Homo sapiens: one gene and its partner. The protein of the gene in region 2 interacts with the protein of the main gene of each other region in a biochemical or structural test. Each region holds a gene or a part of one and is shown on either strand. Other genes may lie near its edges.

Region 1 (3,730 bases), on a different chromosome or scaffold from region 2:
TTGGTCAGGGAAGACCTCTTAGATAAAGTGACATTTGAGCTGAGACCTAAATGAAATCAGTGTTTCTGCAGGAACAATGTTCTAGGCAGAGAGAAGACAAAATGCAAAGTCCCAAGATGGGAAGGTGCTTGGTACCTGTTCAAATTGTTCAAAGTCCCAGGGCTGCAGACAAACCCTTGGAGGACGGTGCTTTTTAAAATTGAGATACAATCTACATGCCATAATATTAATACTTTAAAAGTATATAATTCAGTGCTTTTAAAACATATTTACAAAGTTTTTTTGTTTTGTTTTGTTTTTTTGAGAGGGAGTCTCACTCTGTTGCCCAGGCTGGAGTGAGGTGGCGCAGTCTCGGCTCACTGCAATCTTTGCCTCCTGAGCTCAAGTGATTCTCCCACCTCAGCCACCCGAGGCTAATTTTTATATTTTTAGTTGAGATGGGGTTTCACCACGTTGCCCAGGCAAGTCTCAAACTCCTGAGCTCAAGCAATCTGCCCACCTCAGCCTCCCAAAGTGTTGGGATTTACAGGCCTTGTAAGCCACAGCGCCCAGCCACAAAGTTGTATTTTTTTGAAGTCATGATTTGGTTCTGCTTCTGGCCAAGATGGAGTGACAGGGACCAGATTTACGTTCTCAGCTGAAACAACCAACAGACAGACAAAATATGTGGGAGGACTGCTTCAGCCCAGAAGGTCTAGGCTGTGGTGAGCCTTGATCATGCCACTGCACTCCAGCCTGGGTAACAGAGCGAGACCCTGTCTCAAAACAAAAACAAAAACATCTTCCCACAAAGAAAACTCCAGGGCCAGATGGCCTTGTTTGTGAATTCTACTAAACAGTTAGGGAAGAAATACCAATTTAACTCAAACTCTTCCAGAAAATTGAATAAAACTCGTTCTATGAGGCCAACATTACTCTGATACCAAAATTAGACACAGACATTACAAGAAAACTATAGACCAATATTTCACAAGAACACAGACATAAGAATTGTAAACAAAAGTTTAGCAAATCAAAGCCAACAATATTAAAGGATAATACATCATGACCAAGTGGGGTTTATTCCAGGGATGCAATTTTGGTTTAATATTAAAAAAATCAAGGACCAGGGATGGTGGCTCACACCTGTAATCCCAGCACTTTGGGAGGCTGAAATGGAAGGATTGCTTGAAGCCAAGAGTTCAAGACCAGCCTGGGCGACAATGGGAGATTCCCCCCAATCTTCACAAAAAAATAAAATATTAGCCGGGCACAGTGGTGTGTGCCTACAGTCCTAGCTACTGGGGAAGCTGAGGCAAGAAGATCTCTTGAGCCCAGTATTTTGTGGTTGCAGTGAGCTAAGATCATGCCACTGTGCTCCAGCCTGGGTGACAGTGCAAGACTCTGTCACAAAAACAAAACAAAACAATCAATGTAATTTACCACATTAACAAACTAAAAAAGGAAAACCATTTGGTTATCTCAGTAGACACAGAAAAAGCACTGGACAAAATCCAACATCCATGCCTGATAAAAACTCTCAGCAAACTAGAAATAGAAAGGAACTTCCATGACCTGATAAAGGCCATCCATAAAAGGCCTGCAACTAACATCATACTTAATGCTAAAGACCAAACACTTACCCCTTAAGATCAAGAACAAGACAAGGATGTCTGTTCTTGTTACTTCTTTTCAACAGGATGCCAGAGATTTTAATCAATGAGATAAGGCAAGAAAAAGAAATAAGAGCCATCCAGATTGGAAAAGAAGAAGTAAAACTGTCTTTACTTGCAGTCACTATGGTCTATTCAGAAAAATCCAGCAGAATCTACAAAAAAGATACTAGAACTAGTAACTGAGTTTAGCAAAGTTGTAGGTTACAAGATTAATATACAGAAACCTATTGTTTTTATATATACTAGCAACAAACAACTGAAAATTGAAATAAAAAACCAAAAATAATAATTTACGGTAGCATCAATACAGATACAGGTATAAAACTGACAAAACATGTAAAAGACCTATGCACTGAAAACTACAAATAAGCCAGGCGTGGTGGTTCATGCCTGTAATCCCAGCAGTTTGAGAGGCTGAGGCTGAGGCAGGCGGATCACGAGGTCCGGAGATCGAGACCATCCTGGCCAACATGGTGAAACCCCGTCTCTACTAAAAATACAAAAAAAATTTAGCTAGGTGTGGTGGTGCGTGCCTGTAATCCCAGCTACTTGGGAGGCTGAGGCAAGAGATTTGCTTGAACCCGAGAGGCGGAGGTTGCGGTGAGCTGAGACTGCACCACTGCACTCCACCAACCTGGTGACAGAGCGAGACTCCGTCCCCCCAAAAACAAACAAACAAACAAAAAAACCTACAAATAAAACTGACAAGAGAAAGAAGACCCAAATAAACAAATAAATAAATAAATAAATAAATAAATGGAAAGAGATACTGTGTTCATGGGTTGGAAGCCTCAACATTGTTAAAATATCAACTCTCCTCAAACAGATCTACAGTTTCAACACAATCCCAATCAAAATCTAGAATTTTAGAATTTAACTGATGCTAAAACTCACATAGAAATACCTTAGGACCTAGACCAGTCAAAACAACTTTGAAAAATAACGAAGTTGAAGATTTAATACTCCCTGATTTCAAGCATCTCCTCGAGGGTGTGTTAAAACACAGGGTGTTGGGCCCACCCTCAGAATTTCCAAATCAGTATGGGCCTGAGGATGTGCATTTCTAATTAGTTTCCTGATGCTGCGGCTACTGCTGGCCTGGCTGCCACACTTAGAACTAGTAATCCAGACTAATTCACACTCAGCTAGAAACACAATGTCAGATGCAAGAGATTCCCCTCAAAGGACAAGTACCAAGTAAACTATGCTCATTAAGAAACAACTTGCTTTTCCCTTTTTTATTAGCTAAAGACATCCATAACTGTTAATCAGAGATTCTGATCAGCAAGAAAAAACACACATGACATCACTGAGTTGGCATGATTCTAGCCTCCCCTCTTTGCTGAATGCACATTTTGGTTTCCACGAAATCTTGCAAGCCCTCTACGCAGGCCTTCCCTGTTGAGAATTCACCCTGAAAACGACACACGGCTTTATATCAACCATCCCATAACAGCAACATTAAGGAAACCATCTTGCCCCACTGAAACCTGTCAAATTTCCCTGATCCTCCCCATCTACTATCCCACCCAATGCAGGGCTGCCACCCAGGTCTCACCGTCCAAGATGGCCCATTGATTGTCAATCTCCGTATGTTTCAGGTAGGAGTCTTCAATGGTGGGGTCATAGTCAGGCACAAAGATCTTCTGGAAAAACTGGATGGTGAGGGCACTTTTGCCCACACCCCCATCCCCCACCACCACCAGCTTGTATGTGGGGAGGTTGTCACTGGGGACGGCGCTGGTTGCCATGTTTCTCGTAGGTCAGACCTGCGGCAGCAAGACATGTGGAATGAGACAGAGGGCTTTTTTAACTTAGGGGAAAATATTCATATGTTTTCCTCCTTTATAAAGTAATACTCTCAATTATAAAGAGGTTTGAAAATGAAGAAATGCAAAAGAAAATAAAAGCATTACCCCTGGTCTCACTAGCCAGAGACAGTCCACTGTTAAAGTGATTTATTCAACCATCATTTATTCAACACCAATTATGTGCCAGGCCTGGTGTTGAGGACACAGTACCACTGGTCTTGTTTAGCAAGTATAGCCAAAAGCCATGTCAAATAAGCTTTTTGG
Region 2 (3,500 bases):
TTGAAGCCAACCCGCTCCTCATAGGTCAGGGTGGGCACCTCCTCGGAAGCACAGGCTCGCTCGGGCACTTCAGCCCCACCAACCTGAAGAGGGGAGACACATGGGCATGAGACCAGTTGGCAAGGGCCAGGTAGGTGCCCAGAGACCCCCACCATCCTGGCCTTGAGAGTGGGTTCTGAAAGAAGGAAGAGCTGCATGGCCGTGGGCTTCCCAGGAAAGGTCTGCAGCACAGCAGCCCCATGCAGCCATGATGGGGTGTGAAGCGTTAACTACCTGCAGGCTGTGGGGTGAAGCTGGGGCTGGAGGCCGGGGCAGGTGTCCAGGGCTGAGGCCCAGGTGTCCTGGCCTTGCTCCTGGTAGCTGTCTGGAACCCCAGGGGGCCCCAAAGCTGTGAGGAGCTGGGTGGGAGCAGGGTAGGAGCTACTGGTGTCCAGCTGGCAGGTCAGGACACCCCTGGGCACCCTCACCTCGCTGTCGGAGCTGGGCTGGACGACCTCCCAGGTCTGGAAGTCCACGTCATAGCAGTGCAGCTCGTTGGGCAGCGTGTTGTCGGCCGCACCCCCAAACACATAGAGGTGGCGGTCAAAGGCCACCATGGTATGCCCGTAGCGCCGCTGCGGGGGTGGTGGGGAGCCCCGGAGCAGGTGTTCAGTTGGGATGCGTGTCCACCTGGGGGTACACAACAGTGAATCAATGCTGGGACAGGGGCTCCTGCTCACCCTCGGGGCCTCCCCACAGCAGGCCTTCACTGGGAGGTCCCCCTGCATCCCTTACGGTGACTAGCCCAGGGTCCAGAGGGAGGGCCTAGACACCTGCGCTGAGCACCTCTCACCCCATCCAGCACGGGCACCAGCCCTGCCTGGCTCCATGTGGCCCACCGCAGGGTCCTGCCAGAGCTCCCCCCTCTCCCCATGGAGCAGGCAGCAGTGATGGGCAGGAGGGTGGCATCTGACCCGCCCAGGCAGTCCTGCTCTCTGGGGAGTAAAGTTGTGCAGAGACCATTGCAGGTCACTGTGTTCACGCTGCCCAGTCAGAGCATCCCCACAGCTGAGTCCCCATCCTGGGAGCTGCCTGTACCCCACATCCTGATGCTGCCCCAGCACCTTCCACCTCCCAGGCTTCCCAGTACCTCCCAGCAAGTCCTCTCTTTTGCTAAGTTAGCTGAAGACTTCAGAACAGATCCTGGCCTGGCAGGGCTATGCCATCTGGCTCCATGCTGAGCCCCAGGCCCTTGACAATTTCCCTCATCCTGGGGCTCCCTGCCCTTCCTCCCACGCACCCGTGGCCTCCAGGGAAGCTCCCAAGTCCCTTCCCAAACCCCCTGTACCTGCAGCTCACACTCCTTGTGCCCTCTCCTGCAGCCCCATTGCAGGGATCAAGGGCTGGCCAGCAGCCAGGGGCAGCATGGGCCAGACCTCTCAGGACCTGCAGGCCCCTCTGGTCTTCTGCCATTATTTGAGATCTATGCAGGCCACGTCTGTTACTGGTGGCACTGACCAAGCTATTCACGAGGAAGGGGACGTCCTTCACGTTCAGAGGGAGGCCTAGCCAGGGGCCTCCTCGCCAGGCCTTATCTTGCTAAGCTGTAGCCATATCCTGGGGACCTGCCAGGGGCACCGCACATCCCTGCTCCGGGCTGTAACCTCCTGCTGTTTGCAGAGCTCACAAGGATGGTTACCATGGCCACCAGGTGCAAGAGGCGTTCTTCATATTCAGAAGGATTCGAGGGAACTGACCGTCCTCCCTCCACCCCACTGGCCAGAGTACTCACGTCTTGTCCTTGAATTCAAACTGGAAGAGGTTGTTGGTTATTTTGGCTCCGCTTTGCCCAGAGAATACAAACATCTTGTCCCGGCACACAGCCACGGGGAAGTTGCAGCAAGATGGGGGGATCTCGCCACTCTGGGCCACCTGCAGGGGGAGAGGACAGCTCAGCCCCGGCCTCACAGGGCCCGCTCACATTTCACCACACTCGAGACTGCTGAGATGGGACTGCTTTTATTCTTGAAACTTCCCCAGATGAGGATTCACAGATTCCTTTGTCTTGGAACAGCTCATAGCCCTGTCTCATCCACTTCACGGGGCCCAGTTGTGAACAGCTGGGGTTAAAATCGTCAGGGTTAAATCATCAGGGGCTAAACTCATGTTTTTCATGCCCAGAAGACTGAAAAACAATTTTTTTTAATGAATAAATAAATAAATTCCATGTTTCTAAAGGGGAAAGCAAGCCCAGGGGGAGCTCCAGGGAGCAGGACACTGGATAGCAGACGGCCCTCACTGCACTGAAATAAAGGGTGCGTTAAAGCAAAACCACATCCTCACACACGTGGCACTCTGCCCATCCAAAGCACCAAACCTCGAATCACTGTGCAGCCACAGTGAGGAACTGGTCGTGAAGGCCCGCAGGTCACCAGGGAGGAGAGCGAGGCTCAGGTCGAGGCTGGGCTTTGCAAGGGGAAGAAAGCAGCCTCGACCCCCAGCCTGGCTCCCCCTGCCTCCCACCTCCCTCCACCTGCACCCTGTCTCCCCATGCCCCTCACCTCCTCCACCTGCGCCCTGGCTCCCCGTGCCCCTCACCTCCTCTACCTGCGCCCTGGCTCCCCACGCCCCTCACCTCCTCCCAGCAGGTGAGCTCTCGGTCCTGGAGGCCAATTGTCCACATGTCATTCAACCTGTATTAGGACAGACCAGTGAGGACCCCTTGGGTCTGGTGGTCAGGGTGGGCCTAGTCCTGGCTGGAAGGGATGGCTGCAGGGAGGAGCCCCACCCCCACACAGGGTAGGAGACTTGTGCGGCCATGAGGCGGGAACTTCTGTGTGGGGTGGCAGCCACTGCCTCAAATCCCTGCTGTGCCAGGCCCCCTGCCCGGCCCAGACAGAACAAGTACTCTCATGCATGACATCAGGGCAGTGTGGCAGTGCCAGCTCCTCACTCAGTGTCCCTCCTGGGTGGGGAGAGGACACAGATATCCCAGATGCCACCATCACTGCATCGTTAGGAGTTTCTATGATGCTGAAGTTTTGGGAAACCAGCATATGCTACTTTTGTGATCAGAAAAAGAGAGCAAAGCCAACTTTCTAAAATAAGGAGGAAAAGGCCTTTGGCCTGGGCAAGAACCAGGGCTGGGCCTGAGCCTGGGCACCGCCCACCCGCCCACCAACTCAGCTCCGCAGGGCAACTCCTGGCTGAGGATCCTCATCCAAGCTACTCTGGTAGCCACGGGGCTCCACCCAGTGGCCCTCACCTCCATCTGTCCATCCTCCTCTTTCCCCATCCCCCTCCCAAGAAACCCCCAGACAGAGTGGCACTCAAAATCCACCAGGCACTCAAAATCCTCCCAGCCTAAGCCCTCAAATGCCAGGACGGCCTGCTCCGGGTCTCAGTGCTGTCGGAGGTGGGGTGCACAGGCCGGACCACCACCCACCTGGCGTTGCCGTCATAGCCAGCAAAGATCCACAGCTTGTCACTGTACACCGTGGCCCCATGGGCTGACCTAGCGA

Evidence for each region.
Region 1: of the proteins of LZTR1 (region 2) and MRAS, one has a biochemical effect on the other in vitro, tested with the Homo sapiens proteins (one study listed by BioGRID).

What each region holds. Positions count from the first base shown.
Region 1 is NC_000003.12:138,372,560-138,376,289, reverse strand, and holds part of MRAS (ras-related protein M-Ras isoform 1 precursor), read right to left. Parts: intron 3,425-3,730; 5' UTR 3,407-3,424; coding exon 3,214-3,406; intron 1-3,213. UniProt on the Homo sapiens protein: Signal transducer in the Ras-MAPK signaling pathway that regulates cell proliferation and survival. Core component of the SHOC2-MRAS-PP1c (SMP) holophosphatase complex that regulates the MAPK pathway activation.
Region 2 is NC_000022.11:20,988,797-20,992,296, reverse strand, and holds part of LZTR1 (leucine-zipper-like transcriptional regulator 1), read right to left. Parts: coding exon 3,425-3,500; intron 2,673-3,424; coding exon 2,615-2,672; intron 1,912-2,614; coding exon 1,772-1,911; intron 670-1,771; coding exon 468-669; intron 84-467; coding exon 1-83. UniProt on the Homo sapiens protein: Substrate-specific adapter of a BCR (BTB-CUL3-RBX1) E3 ubiquitin-protein ligase complex that mediates ubiquitination of Ras (K-Ras/KRAS, N-Ras/NRAS and H-Ras/HRAS).